Linked DNA regions of Homo sapiens. The protein of the gene in region 2 interacts with the protein of the main gene of each other region in a pairwise test. Each region holds a gene or a part of one and is shown on either strand. Other genes may lie near its edges. The genes, in order: MACROH2A1 and ERICH2.

What was found.
Region 1: the proteins of ERICH2 (region 2) and MACROH2A1 interact in binary tests that used the Homo sapiens proteins (3 or more experiments, as listed by UniProt).

Annotation. Positions count from the first base shown.
Region 1 is NC_000005.10:135,396,132-135,403,409, forward strand, and holds the start of MACROH2A1 (core histone macro-H2A.1), read right to left. Parts: upstream 3,101-7,278; 5' UTR 2,931-3,100; intron 1-2,930. UniProt on the Homo sapiens protein: Variant histone H2A which replaces conventional H2A in a subset of nucleosomes where it represses transcription. Nucleosomes wrap and compact DNA into chromatin, limiting DNA accessibility to the cellular machineries which require DNA as a template.
Region 2 is NC_000002.12:170,794,280-170,799,668, reverse strand, and holds the end of ERICH2 (glutamate-rich protein 2), read right to left. Parts: intron 1,629-5,389; coding exon 1,557-1,628; intron 900-1,556; coding exon 775-899; 3' UTR 692-774; downstream 1-691.

The DNA.
Region 1 (7,278 bases), on a different chromosome or scaffold from region 2:
GTTACTGCCTGCCTGCTTTACAAAAAAACTTTTCTACATACTCCTCTCTCTTTTAAAGGTTGTGCCAAACTCTTAAGATAACCAGTCTCACGGAAGGCTATTTAGAGAAAAGTTAAAGTGTGGGCTTCACAGGACAGGACTCTGATAAGGCTTAGCATGTAGAATCCACTCATTATTTGCCGAGTAGACGTGTTCCCAATAAGAATAAAAAGAACACCTGATCCTGTCTCTCTCCTGCTCAAAACCCTTCAGTTGCTCTTAGGATAAAGTGTGGGTCTGACCAGAATCCTTTGTGATTTGTCCTGTTTGTCCCTCCCTGAAGCCTCACCTGACTCCGCACCAGGACTCAGCCATCCCGAGCCTCTGGCAGTTCCCCACATGACCTCTGTTCTTTTCTTCTAAGATGCACACATGGGGTTCCCCAGGCCTCAAACACTTGTCCCCATCTGCCCTCCTTTGCCCAGCCATCTCCTGCTTGACCTTTCCAAGCCAGATAAGGGCTCACTCCTGGCTAGGTTACTGTACCTGCTGGGGGGCTACGTGGGGCCTTTTGCACTGATTTTACAACAGCTACTTGCCTGCCTTCTCCCAAAGTCAGCTCCCCCAAGGTAGGGGCTAGGCATTTCTTAATCACGGCTGTGTCCCCAGTGCCTGAACAGGAGCTGATTCTCAGGAAATCTTTATGGAAAGACTCTGAGACACTGACCTGACAGGTTTGGTCCAAGCAAACAAGCTATACAACTCTTTGGAATGAAGAGTTGACTCACTCAGGCTCACTTGTAAGCACTGAGGCAGGGCCCAAAAGACCTCTAAACCTACAGAATATGGGAAGGACCCACAGAGATCTGGGCCCCAATCACTCCTGCCCCTTCCCAGCCCATGTTCTAGGAATGGGGCTCTGAAAAGGCTGTCACAAATCCTTGGGGACACTCAAATAAAACCAGAGGCTGTTGCAGTTCTGATGAACAACACATATAGAGTCTTGTTGGGTTCTTCGGCTTGAGGTTTTCAGTTTATGCTTTTATTTAAATAAATCTCCTTTAGGTGACTTGGGGCCGCATTAGCTCTGAAGGCAGGTCCCAGAACACATGCCCTCTGAGCTTCTCAGTGGGGAAGGAATGCGAGGCGCTCCTCAAGTTCGCCTCTCTCAGGGACCAGAAGAAACATCAGATGGAGATGTGTCACTCCCTGACACTGGCCCATTTGGTAAAAACTAAACCAGTGGCATGGTTGTATACTAGAATGTCACATGTGAAGTTCCAGACAATTCTTAAAGTTTAATAAAATGTGAGTTAAATTATGCCTCCTTCTAAAGGCCTGCCTCAAACAATTTTCATTTAGACAACCCTCTTAATGCCTTATCTAGGGATCAGCATTAACAATGGTGACAGATCGAAGCCAAAGAACAGACTGGAAAGATTTCTCTCTCCTTGTAAAACTAGAAGGGGGAAGAATTTGAAGTCTTTCAAGAGTTTTGTTGTGTTTAAGAAAAAATAAGTTTGAAAACATACTCATCCTCATCAGAGAGTCTCTTGTGCAAGACTGAGATGCTGCTGCCCAACTCTAGTTAAATGTGTACAATGGGTATTAATTCCAGTTGCAGGCAAGAGGTGTCCATTTCAGAGTTAACACCTCTGACAACAGGCTAGTAGCCTAAAGGTGGCCTGCAGTAGGTGAATTCCACCTAATTTACAACTCGAGTCTCCCATTCAAACCTAAGACTGTTAAAAAATGCCCGACTCCCTGGAGCAGGGAGCTTTGGAACAAAACACTTCCCTTACCCCCTACTTTAACGGTAAAACCTCAAACCACAAAGGTGGAAGAAAAGAGGGAAGCTAGCAGGAGTGCCCCCTCTAATTGTCTATTCTTATGTGCTGTTTACTGGGTCATTAAAATCTTACAAGGCCTTTATAGTCATTGTAATTGTTGAATTCAAGGTTTGTCCCAGTTGTTTGTACAGAAGTCTCTCACTTTGAAACTCAGAAACATTTCCCCTAACATCTTGTCTAAAAGAACCTTTCAAGCAATGTACTGACCAACTCCTTGAGTGATCTGTGGCCCCTGCAGGAGTGGGGGTAGGGAGCGCCATGTCGCACACCTGTTGTCAGGTGACACTGCCAGCAGCATCCTGCACACTCACCTCCCCACTCCACCCCACCCCCAGCGAGGCTCTTTCCTGCTGGCCTTCTCCACCCGGGGAAGCCTACAGCCTTCCGGAGTTACCTTTTAAAAAAAGCAAACCCTTCCTACCACAAAGCAAACAAAAGGCTGATACCGAGACAATCGGGAGCAGCGGGGGTTCCCGTGGCCCCTCTCCAGCCCATCCTTGGACCACTCCCCAACCCGGTCCCCCGCACCAGCCCGGCTTCAATCCCGCGAGTAGCCCCCGCCTTCCCCTCCCTGCAGATAGCGAGCCAGACGCCTACACCTCGGCCCCCCGGGGCTCGGGCCCGACTTATTGTGCCGGGGCCGGCAACTCGCGGGCCGGCGGGGGCCTCACCAAGTACAACTCTGCTCACAGCAGCTCCCGGGTGCCCAGGCCCAGACTGCCTAGCCAGCGCCGCGGGGCCTCCTGCGGCCTCGGGCCTGGCCCGTGAGCCCGCCCCAGGAAGGGTCGCCAGGGTAGGCGCCAGCACCGCTTTTTTCCCACAAAAGCGCCCAGGCGCGGGCAGGGGGATGCGTTTCGAAGAGAAGTTGGTTTCCAGGTTTCTTTTTTGAACAAAACCAAAGGGAATCCCGCGCGGCCCGACAAGGCCTGGGAGGACGTAGTGCACGCGCGAGGACCCGGCGTGGGCCACACCGAACCCGGCGGCCCGAGCCCGGCCCGCACCACACCGGTGCGCGCCAGGCCGGGCCGCTCCCGGGCACCCGCGGCCGGACCCGAGCGGCGGGGACAGGGAGTGCGGCAAGGGGGCCCGCGCGGCACTTACGCGGCGGCTCGGTGGCGGCGGCGGCAGCTGCAAGGTGTCTCGGCCTGAGCCCTCCTGGCCGCTCGCGCCTTTTCTCTCCGCGCTCCTCGCTGGCCCGCCCGCCTCTTCGCTTCCCGCCCGCGCGGCCCGCGCTCTCCCCCTCCGCCCGGCGCCGCTGCCGAGTGAACTGGAACCAGTCCTCGCGGCCGGCTTCCCACAATGCACAGCGCGCCGCTCGTCACATCCCTTCGCGGCCCCGAGCGTCCGGCCTCCGCGCCCGTGCCGCCCGGCGCCCCGGCCTTGACCCCGGGCCCGCGCCCTACCCGTTGACGCCGGCCGCTCTGCGCCCAGGCACCAGCCCGCACCCCGGACGCGAGGTCTGACCCATGACCCCGGGGACGCCCAGAGCCCAGTCCTTGGGAAGGGCCAGGCCCCTGGAGAGGAGCTTCTTCAGGGCGCGTCCCAGACTCTGCGTCTCGAGTGAACGCCTACTGTGTGCCTGGCTCTGAGCACGGGACTGTCGCTGCCACGGCATCTTTAGGAACCTTCCCACTAACCCAGTGGGAAGGCACAATGGCTGTTACCAGCGATCGCTCTTCCCTCCCCAGTCAATGCCAACTCCCCCCTGCCCCGCCTCAGAGACCCCGCTGTCTTTAGATACAGGCCACCGCCAAGCCCTGGTCTGCCCCAAGATCAATTACTGCGCACCCGGTTCCCCTGGGGTCCTTCAGTTAATCCTCCTCACCCCGAAGTCTGGAACCTGCCTTGCACATGGAAGCGGTTAGCTACTTCGCTTCAGCAAAAGTTCACTTTCGGACCCAAGTTGGGAATTACTAATGTAGACAGTGATTCCTTATCATCACACACGTTTTTTAAAAACTGCGGACAGGCCGAAAGAGGAGGAGCCGCCACAAAGCCCGCCACGTCTTCCTAAATTGGTTTACCGCCTGAAGGCATTGGTGCCCCATCCCGGGTACTTAAATGGGGGCCTGCCCTCTACTCCCCTCCCTCCAAAGTGTGGAGCCGGAAGCCACTTCTCCATCCAGCTGTGAACTAAATTTGGATAATAATACACATCCCTCAGGGTTGATGTGAAGTTTAAAGTGCCGCTACTGGGGATTATGGAGGTAATTAGAGACCCCCACCCCCACCCCCCAGTCCTCAGGCTGCGCGGGAATCGCAGCGGCAGTAACCTCCACCTCACCGGGATGCTTTACACCTTACTTTAAGAGTTTGCAAAACAATGTCCAATACCTGCCATTCATGCATTCGTTAATTCGATTAAGTACTGAGAACGTATTTTGTGTCATACATCGATTTGGGTGCTGGATATGAAACAGCCAAGAGAACAGGCAGAAATCTCTGCCCTCCTGTAGTTTGCAGTCTCGTGGGGGAAAGACAGACAAACGGGAGAATGTGTCAGAGGGTCTCCATGGGGTGGAGAAAAATAAGGCGGAGAAGGGGAATAGGAAGTGTGAGATAAGAGTGAGGCTCAAATACAAGAGAAGGCCTCTATGAGAAAGTAACATTTAAAGCCTGAAGAAATTGAGGGAGCAAGCCGTGTGGATGTCTGGGGAAGAACTGCGCCGAGCATGAGGAATAGCAAGTGCAAAGGCTGGGGTAGGAGTGTGTCCAAAATAGTCAAGACAGAGCGAGTGTGAGGTTGGAGTAGAATGGGTGAAGGGGAAAGTAACAGGAGATGAAGCTGGAAAAATGATGATGCTTATGATGCTTCTGGTCCCAAAACAAAGCATTATGGTTCTATGAGGATCTCCCGAAGAAAAGATGTCAGGAAAGGTGCAGAGACCCTCCCCCACACACCACATTGTTGTTCCATCCTTCTCTGTGCCTTTGGGCAAGGACTCTCCGTTCTGTAGGGACCACCAGGTGGAATTAAAGTCTACACTCCTCCAAGAGCTGATCTTGGGGCGGCCCCACCTCCATGCCCCTCTACAGCGTGCCATTCTCATAGAACACACTAGGACCTTTGTCCTCTGGAGCTGTTCAGTGCAGCAGCTCTGACCTCATCCTTCTCCAGAAGCCTCCACCTTCTCTCCCCTCTCTCCTCCTGCGCTTTGTGTGTCCTGTTCTTCCACTTCGGTGACCTGTCTCCTCCCCTAATCTGGCTCAGAGAGGGGTACCAGCTGCTGCTGCTGCTATTGCTTCTTCTTCTGTTAAAGGTTTTTTATTTTTTTCCAATGACAAAGCTATGCTCATTCTGAAAACATGAAAAATAAAAATGCTCAAAAAATAAAACTCACTCTACATTCATTGCTAGGAGAGAACAGCCTGCTCCCATTCCAGCCTTTTTATCTATATCCACTTAACATTAAACATACAGAGTTTCTACTCTATTTAGTGATTGTCACCTGCACTTTAAACTTAATGGTTCTTTATGAGCATTTTACTGGGTAGTTGTTCTACAATAACATTACTGGAACTGTTTGGGTTTCCCTTGACCCTCTTAAAAATTACTGAGAACCCTGAAGAGCTTTTGTTTTATAGGTTACATCTATCAATATTTGCTTTATTAGAAATAAAAACTGAGAAAAAGTAAATATTTATTAATTTATTTTAAAAATGTTAACATGGAAAGAAATTATATTACATAAATAATGTATTTTAGAAAAATAATTATACTTTCCAAACAAAAATAATTAGTGGGAAGAGTGGCATTGTTTTACAGTTTTGCACGGCTCTTGAATGTCTGGTGTAATAGAAGATAGCTGGTTTCATGCCTCCTCCTGCATTCAGTCGGTCACTATATGTTGTTTTGTTTGAAGTATGTGAAGAAAATTCAGCCTTATGTAGATATGTATATGGGAAAGAATAGAGGATTTTAATCGCCTTTTCAGATAATTACAGATGTTCTTTTTTCATACCACACCAAAATGCAAGGAGTCGTTTCTTAAAGGTTAAGTGCAATGTAGAACCTGAAAAAAAAAATCAATAAACTTTTGAACTCAGTTAATACATTAAAATCCATTGGCCTATTTTATATCTTGACTGGGTCCTTTAGCTATGCATAATTTGGTAAAATCATACATTGATCATTTGGGAAATATCAGTTCACTGATTTATACGGATCTTACAAATGTAAACACATTTCATTGTACAATATTAGAAAATCACATCTATTAATAGCACCACTGATCTCATCTGAAGGTTTTTGAGTATTGGGAAGTTGTCAAGCTCTTGGTGGCAGATACGAGTTTCCCAAAATTGTAATTTCTGCTTGAAAGCTCAAGTTTATCACTGACAACATAATGTCACAGTGATTTTCCTAGAAATGACAGGTTCATTTCATTCATTTTCAAGAAAATGTCTACCACAAACAAAGGACCACATTATGACTTTCATGGGCCATAGGCATTTTTGCCTGCATGGGCCCTTTCCTCCACTAAAAAGACAACTGCACTGGTATAAAGACAAATAAATTAATATTGTATATTAAAACTGTGCCTCGTGGAGTATTCAGCCCTACGTACACCCAATTCTGAATACCCATAGTTTGTCTGTCAGGTGTAGCTTCTCCATTAGAAACAGTACTCAGGCCCCCAGGACTTTATGGGCCCACGAAAATGTCTTAATTTCTTTTAAAATCAGAAGAAAATGAAAGTTAGTTCTTTTATATTGAAGAAAATATTTTAATATATAATGTTAATATATTTGTCTTTCTACGAACACGGTTGTAAAATTTTTTTTCTATTGTTTTATAGAAGAAGGGACTCATGAAGGTAAAAGTGCCTAGGGCCATGAAAGTGTAATGCAGCCTTGCTGTCAGCCCTTGTTTCAAGAAAAGCTAGTGTTCCATGAGAAAAGCAGCTAGTTTAACTCACAGCTCAATTGCACACGTGCTTCTCCTCAAGATGACCATCCTAGTAGAAATGCTGTATGCGTACTTCCCATTTGGTCACGTGGAATATTTTAAAATGTGTTCCAAAGGGTCAGATTTAATAAAATTAATGCTTTTTACTGTTTCATCAGGACATTCTTAAGTTAAACTGGCTCTCTTTTTTTTTTTTTTTTTTTTTTTTTGGCTGTGAGTGCTTCATAATAAATAATAAAATGATGATGAGTATGGGATGATGCCATTGCTGATTTGTGGTAAGTCGCCAGCAGTTTTATCCACTACTGTTCTTGCACCATTTGTGCAAAGATCAACACAGGGAAAAGTCAAATAATGTCTTAATGTTAACATGAAAATAGTTGTGACTTTTTGTACCTCCAGGAAGGGTCTCAGTGACCTTCGGGGGACTGCAGACTACATTTTGAGAACTACTGCTTCACAATATCCACAAGCTTGGCCATCGTTAATTTAACCAACTCCTTATTTTTTCTTCTTTCAGGCTGTTTCCAACTCTATTAT
Region 2 (5,389 bases):
GGTATATGTGTTCTATTATTTGCCAGGTACTTGTCCAGTTGCTGGGATATTATGAGGAAAATGATAAAGTTCTGCTTCATGGGTGTTACATTCTCTGGCAGGTAGGGAGAAGATGAAATGAACAATTAAACAAGCATTTCAGACACTGATACATGCTGTAAAGAACATACAATGAATGGGCTGGGCACAGTGGCTCACGCCTGTAATCCCAGAACTTTGGGAGGCCAAGATGGGGGGATCACTTGAGGCCAGGAGTTTGAGACCAGCCTGGTTGATGTGGCAAGATCCCATTATCTAGACAAACAAACAAATGATGAATGATATAAAAGTGCCTGAAATGGTGGTAATTTATAGGGAACTAAACATATGAATTCTGGGGCAATAATGTCCATGCACAAATCCAGGCTCTACAAACAAATAGGTGTATGATACTGGACAAATTATTCACCCTGTCTGTGCCTCAGTTTTCTCATCTGTAGAATGGCATAATAATAGTACTTAATGGGGTTGTTGAATTATACAATGTGTGTAGAGCAGTTTGAACAGTACCTGGCACACAGTCCTATGTAAGTGTTTTCAACTATTTTCCTCTCTGAGTAACTCATATATTGAGCTAAGGCCTAAATATTAGGAAGAGTCTTAAGCCAAGAATATAGATAACTTAAAAGAAACTGTACCAAATAAGGAAGAATTAGACTAAAATGTCACTTGTCTTTATATTTGCATGGTATACATTAATGAAAATACATGAAGCTTCAAGTATTGCAGCAACACTCATGATCCATCTTCACCTTCGTCAGAGCTCTCGTCACTCAGCTCCTCATCGCTTTCTCCTTTACTCTCACCACTGCTGTCTTCATCACTGTTTTCACCGTCTTGCTCATGATTCTGAGTTTTCTCTGCCACAGAAAGGAAGAGGATTGCTTAAGGTGTTTCTTAATATTTCACTCTGAAAAATAATTCTCCTTGCCCCTCCCTCTACCAAGAAATACATATATTTGTAACATAAGAACTGAGTTGGACTTGGCTAACTGCACTAGGGTCAAATGGTAGTACAAAGAAGAAATGTATTTTTACTGGCATACAGGTGTTTTTGATAATTTAAAACATAAGTCTATAAAAATAATTTTACTATTGTCAATGAAATTCTATTTAACGATTTCATAGAATTCTTTCTATCATAGAATTTTATTGACAATAGTAAAATTGTCCATTGAAAGGAATTGAGACAAGGTAATTGAGAGGGTGTGGCTTCCCTTGGAATTGTGGGTAATTCCTTTAACACGCAGCCGTGTTAGCATATTCTGCTTGTCAATACCTGATGCCTGGTGCCCAGGGAGCCTGCTCTGCTCGGGCAGTTCTATCCCACAGAGAGAAGGGGGTCATTGTGACCATCCACAGAGGACAAGCTGTTTCACTAAACCATTTAAGACAGCCATTTAGCCTTTTCTTAACCACTTCCTAAAGATGTATCGACAATCTCCCGGGATAATGGGTTTTTAAAGTGACTGCTTATAGTTCTATGAGAAACAAGGAATTTCAATTTTTAAAATTACCCATCAGCAACATTTCTTCAATAAGTGTGAAAAACTCCTTGGCCTCAGGATTTTCTGGTTCATAGATTAGGACTGAAAATGAAAATGGACAACAGAATGTGTGTTATTAACGTTCAGTGTTGCAGCAAACAGGCTCCTTAGAATGAAATTGAACTGTCAGTCAGAGCAGGTGAAAGGCACAATGCAATAAACACTAACAATTATACCACAGGTATATCTGAGTACAAATAGAGAAAATTCTGCACTTCTATTTTGCACTTTGGAAGATAAATGATCCTCACTATATTTTCTTTCTTTCTTTTTTTTTTTTTTTTTTTCCCTGAGACAGGGTGTCGCTCTGTTACCCAGACTGGAGTGCAGTGGCATGATCTTGGCTCACTGCAGCCTCTGCCTCCCGGGTTCAAGTGATTCTCGTGCCTCAGTTTCCTGAGTAGCTACAGGTGTGTGCCACCACGCCTGGCTAAGTTTTGTATTTTTGGTAGAGACAGGGTTTCACCATGTTGCCCAGGCTAGTCTCAAACTCCTGACCTCAGGTGATCCACCCACCTCGGCCTCCCAAAGTGCTGGGATTACAGGCATGAGACACTGCACCCAGCCCTCATTATATTTTCTACCTCCTATCCATAGAAAGCAATCTCTATCACCTCAATATAGCTTCCCTCATAGGACAGTAGCCAGAGTGTTTCATGAACATAATCATTTCCCAAAGAAGGTACAAATTCTGCAAAATATGGAGACTTTGCTAATGAGAAGACTGTGTGCCTAGAGGTCTGTTAATCCTTCATCTCATGTCATCCACCCATCTACATGACATCCTTTACTAAAGGTCTCATCGGAACACAGAGGAAGTTTTTGTTTGTTTGTTTTTAATGCAACCTCTTCCATGCTAGAGATGCCATTTTGTTACATCTTTCCAATAGGGGAACTGATGTTACTTCTTTCTCTTCATCTTGACAACTTTTACTGTAGTCTACACGTTGGTCATTGCCTGCTTAACAACATTCTCCACCTTCATTGGACCCATTGTTTTCAGTACTATTTATTCCTTTCTGCTGATCCTTTATGTCACTGTGTCACCTTTCTTTTGGACCACAACAATAGACTTTTTTAGGCTTGTTAGTATGTTAGCAAAATCCTAGAGGCCAGAAAGATTTATACCCTTAGTTTCAGAGTTGTCTAGACTATTTTATTCACTTTTTTAGATCTCGCTCCACAGATCTCTCTCTACTTCTTCCTACCAGCCTTGAGGAGTATTCATAATTTTGCATCATCCGTTTAATATTGTGACTCCTGCTCAATATCTTGGTGGCCTCCAAGGGGGGCACTGAAACATCAAGTGTGCTCTTCATCTGGCTAAAAGTAAGACACAATTGTGAGGCTGGGCATGGTGGCTCACACTTGTAATCCCAGCACTTTGGGAGGCTGAGGCAGGTGGATCATTTGAGCTCAGGAGTTCAAGACCAGCCTTCGCAACCTGCTGAAACCCTGTCTCTACAAAAAAATACAAAAATTAGCTGGGCGTGGTAACACGTGCTTGTAGTCCCAGCTCCTTCGGAGGCCGAGGCAGGAGGATGACATGAACCTAGGAGATGGAGGTTGCAGTGGGTTGAAATCGTGCCACTGCATCCCAGCCTAAGTGACTGAGGGAGACGCTGTCTCAAAAAAAAAAAAACAAAAAAAAAAACAAAGAGAGAGAGAGAGATAACCATTGTGGATTGTTCAATTAGACCCCATTGGCTCATAGGATCCCACCCATGGCTTTCATCTTGATACACAAAAAAGGGACTTTATTTCCTAATCTACTAACATAACTAACAATTTGTCATCAATCTGGGTTAGCATGACTGCGTGCCTGCTTAGAAGCTGCTTTTAAGGATCCTGTAAGTATTTTATGTATCATTATACATACCCATAAGGTTTCTGAGCAAAGTAATTTTTTGCACATTTTACCTTGGACTAAAATATGCTTATCATTAATAGTCTAAATCTCTGAGGCTAAGCTTCTTTCCAGAAGAGGGTTTCTCCAGCTTGCTTCTTTAGATACTAGTTTCTTTAAAAGTATACTGTAGGCTAATAGGAAAGAGTGAGTTATTTTATTCAAAAATAAATAGAAGATTTTGTAGGAACTATATTTTTGGAAGATACAGTATATCTGTATTTGCATTAGACATATAATGGCATGAAGTATTTTGGTTTTTGAGCCATTATTCTTTAACATTTACAACTGATGATTTATTAAATAAATCTTCCGGACCTCCATGTATTATGTAGAGAATCTCAGGCTGCCTGGGAGCAGAAGTGTGGTACCCTAAAGAGACTGAGCTGCAGGCTTTTGACTTACAGGTGAAGTGACCAAAAAATAGGAAGATTGATTGGCACCAAATCTCATAGTCACTCATGAGATGAATGGAGAAACGTAAAGTACTTTGGACTCTTGACTTTCAGTTCCATTTAAAAACCACTTTTGGACAGGTGCAGTGGCTGATGCCTGTAATCCCAACACTTCGGGAGGCTGAGGTGGAAGGATCCTTGAGCCCAGGAGTTTGAGACCAACCTGGGCAATGTGGTGAAACCCCGCCTCTACAAAAAATACAAAAATTACCTGGGCATGGTTTTACGTGTCCACAGTCCCAGCTACTTGAGAGGCCGAGGTGGTAGGATCCCTTGAGCATGGGAGTTCAAGGCTGAAGTGAGCTGTGATCACACCACTGCACTCCAGCCTGGGTGACAGAGTGAGACCGTGCCTCAAAAATAGTAATAATAATACTTCAGTGTTTTTATAAAAATAGAGAATTGAACATGATTCTATCAGGATTCCTTCTAATTTGAAATTCTGGCTGGATGCAGTGACTCTCATCTGTAATCCCATTGCTTTGGGAGGCCATGGCAGACAGATCACTTGAGCCTAGCAGTTCAAGACCAGCCTGGAGAATATGGCAAAACTCATCTCTACAAAAAATACAAAAATTAGTGGGTGTGGTGGTACACACCTGTAGTCCCAGCTACTAGGGAGGCTGAGGTGGGAGGATTGCCTGAGCTGGGAGATTGAGACTGCAGTGGCTGACATTGTGCCACTGCACTCCAGCCTGGGTGACAAAGCAAGACCCTGTCTCAAAAAAAATTCTATATTTGTGGGTCACCAAAAATAAGTTTGACTAAAATATTTTATTCAATGGCTCTAAAGGTCAAAAGTGCTTGAAAGGATTATTTACCTCAGATACAAGATAGGAAGTGTTGAAGTATTCAAGAAACCAATTTGTAAAATGAGCCAATGATCTAGAAGTACTCTATCCACAGTTGGGACTCTTGTGAGGCAAGCCAGGGCAGACCGTCACTCAATCCTTGTGCTACATTTTCACTTAAGGACTTTACTGTAAGAATGAATTTAAGTTTAACACTGCTTAATATTTTGAGTCTTGTTGTCAACAAGTTTAATTGTAGAGTTGCTATTTTCTCTTTTTTAACGTATTATCACTAATATGTTAGAAGAAAAAGATGCATAAAATAGTTGAAAAGATGATAGAGTTCAACAAAGAACCAGAATCTTTCCAGATCATTAAATGGAAATTCTAAAATTGGAAAAGACAACCTTGGACTCACTAAATAGTTTTAACAGCATATTGGATACAGCAGAAGATAGAATAAAGAAACCAAAAACAGGTAGATAGAAAATATTAAAACTGACACATAGAAATAAAAGAAAGAGAGCCAGGTGCTATGGCTCACCCTGTAATCCCAGCACTTTGGGAGGCTGAGGCAGGAGAATCACTTGAGGCCAAGAGTTCGAGACCAGCCTGGCCAACATGGTAAAACCCCCATCTCTACTAAAAATA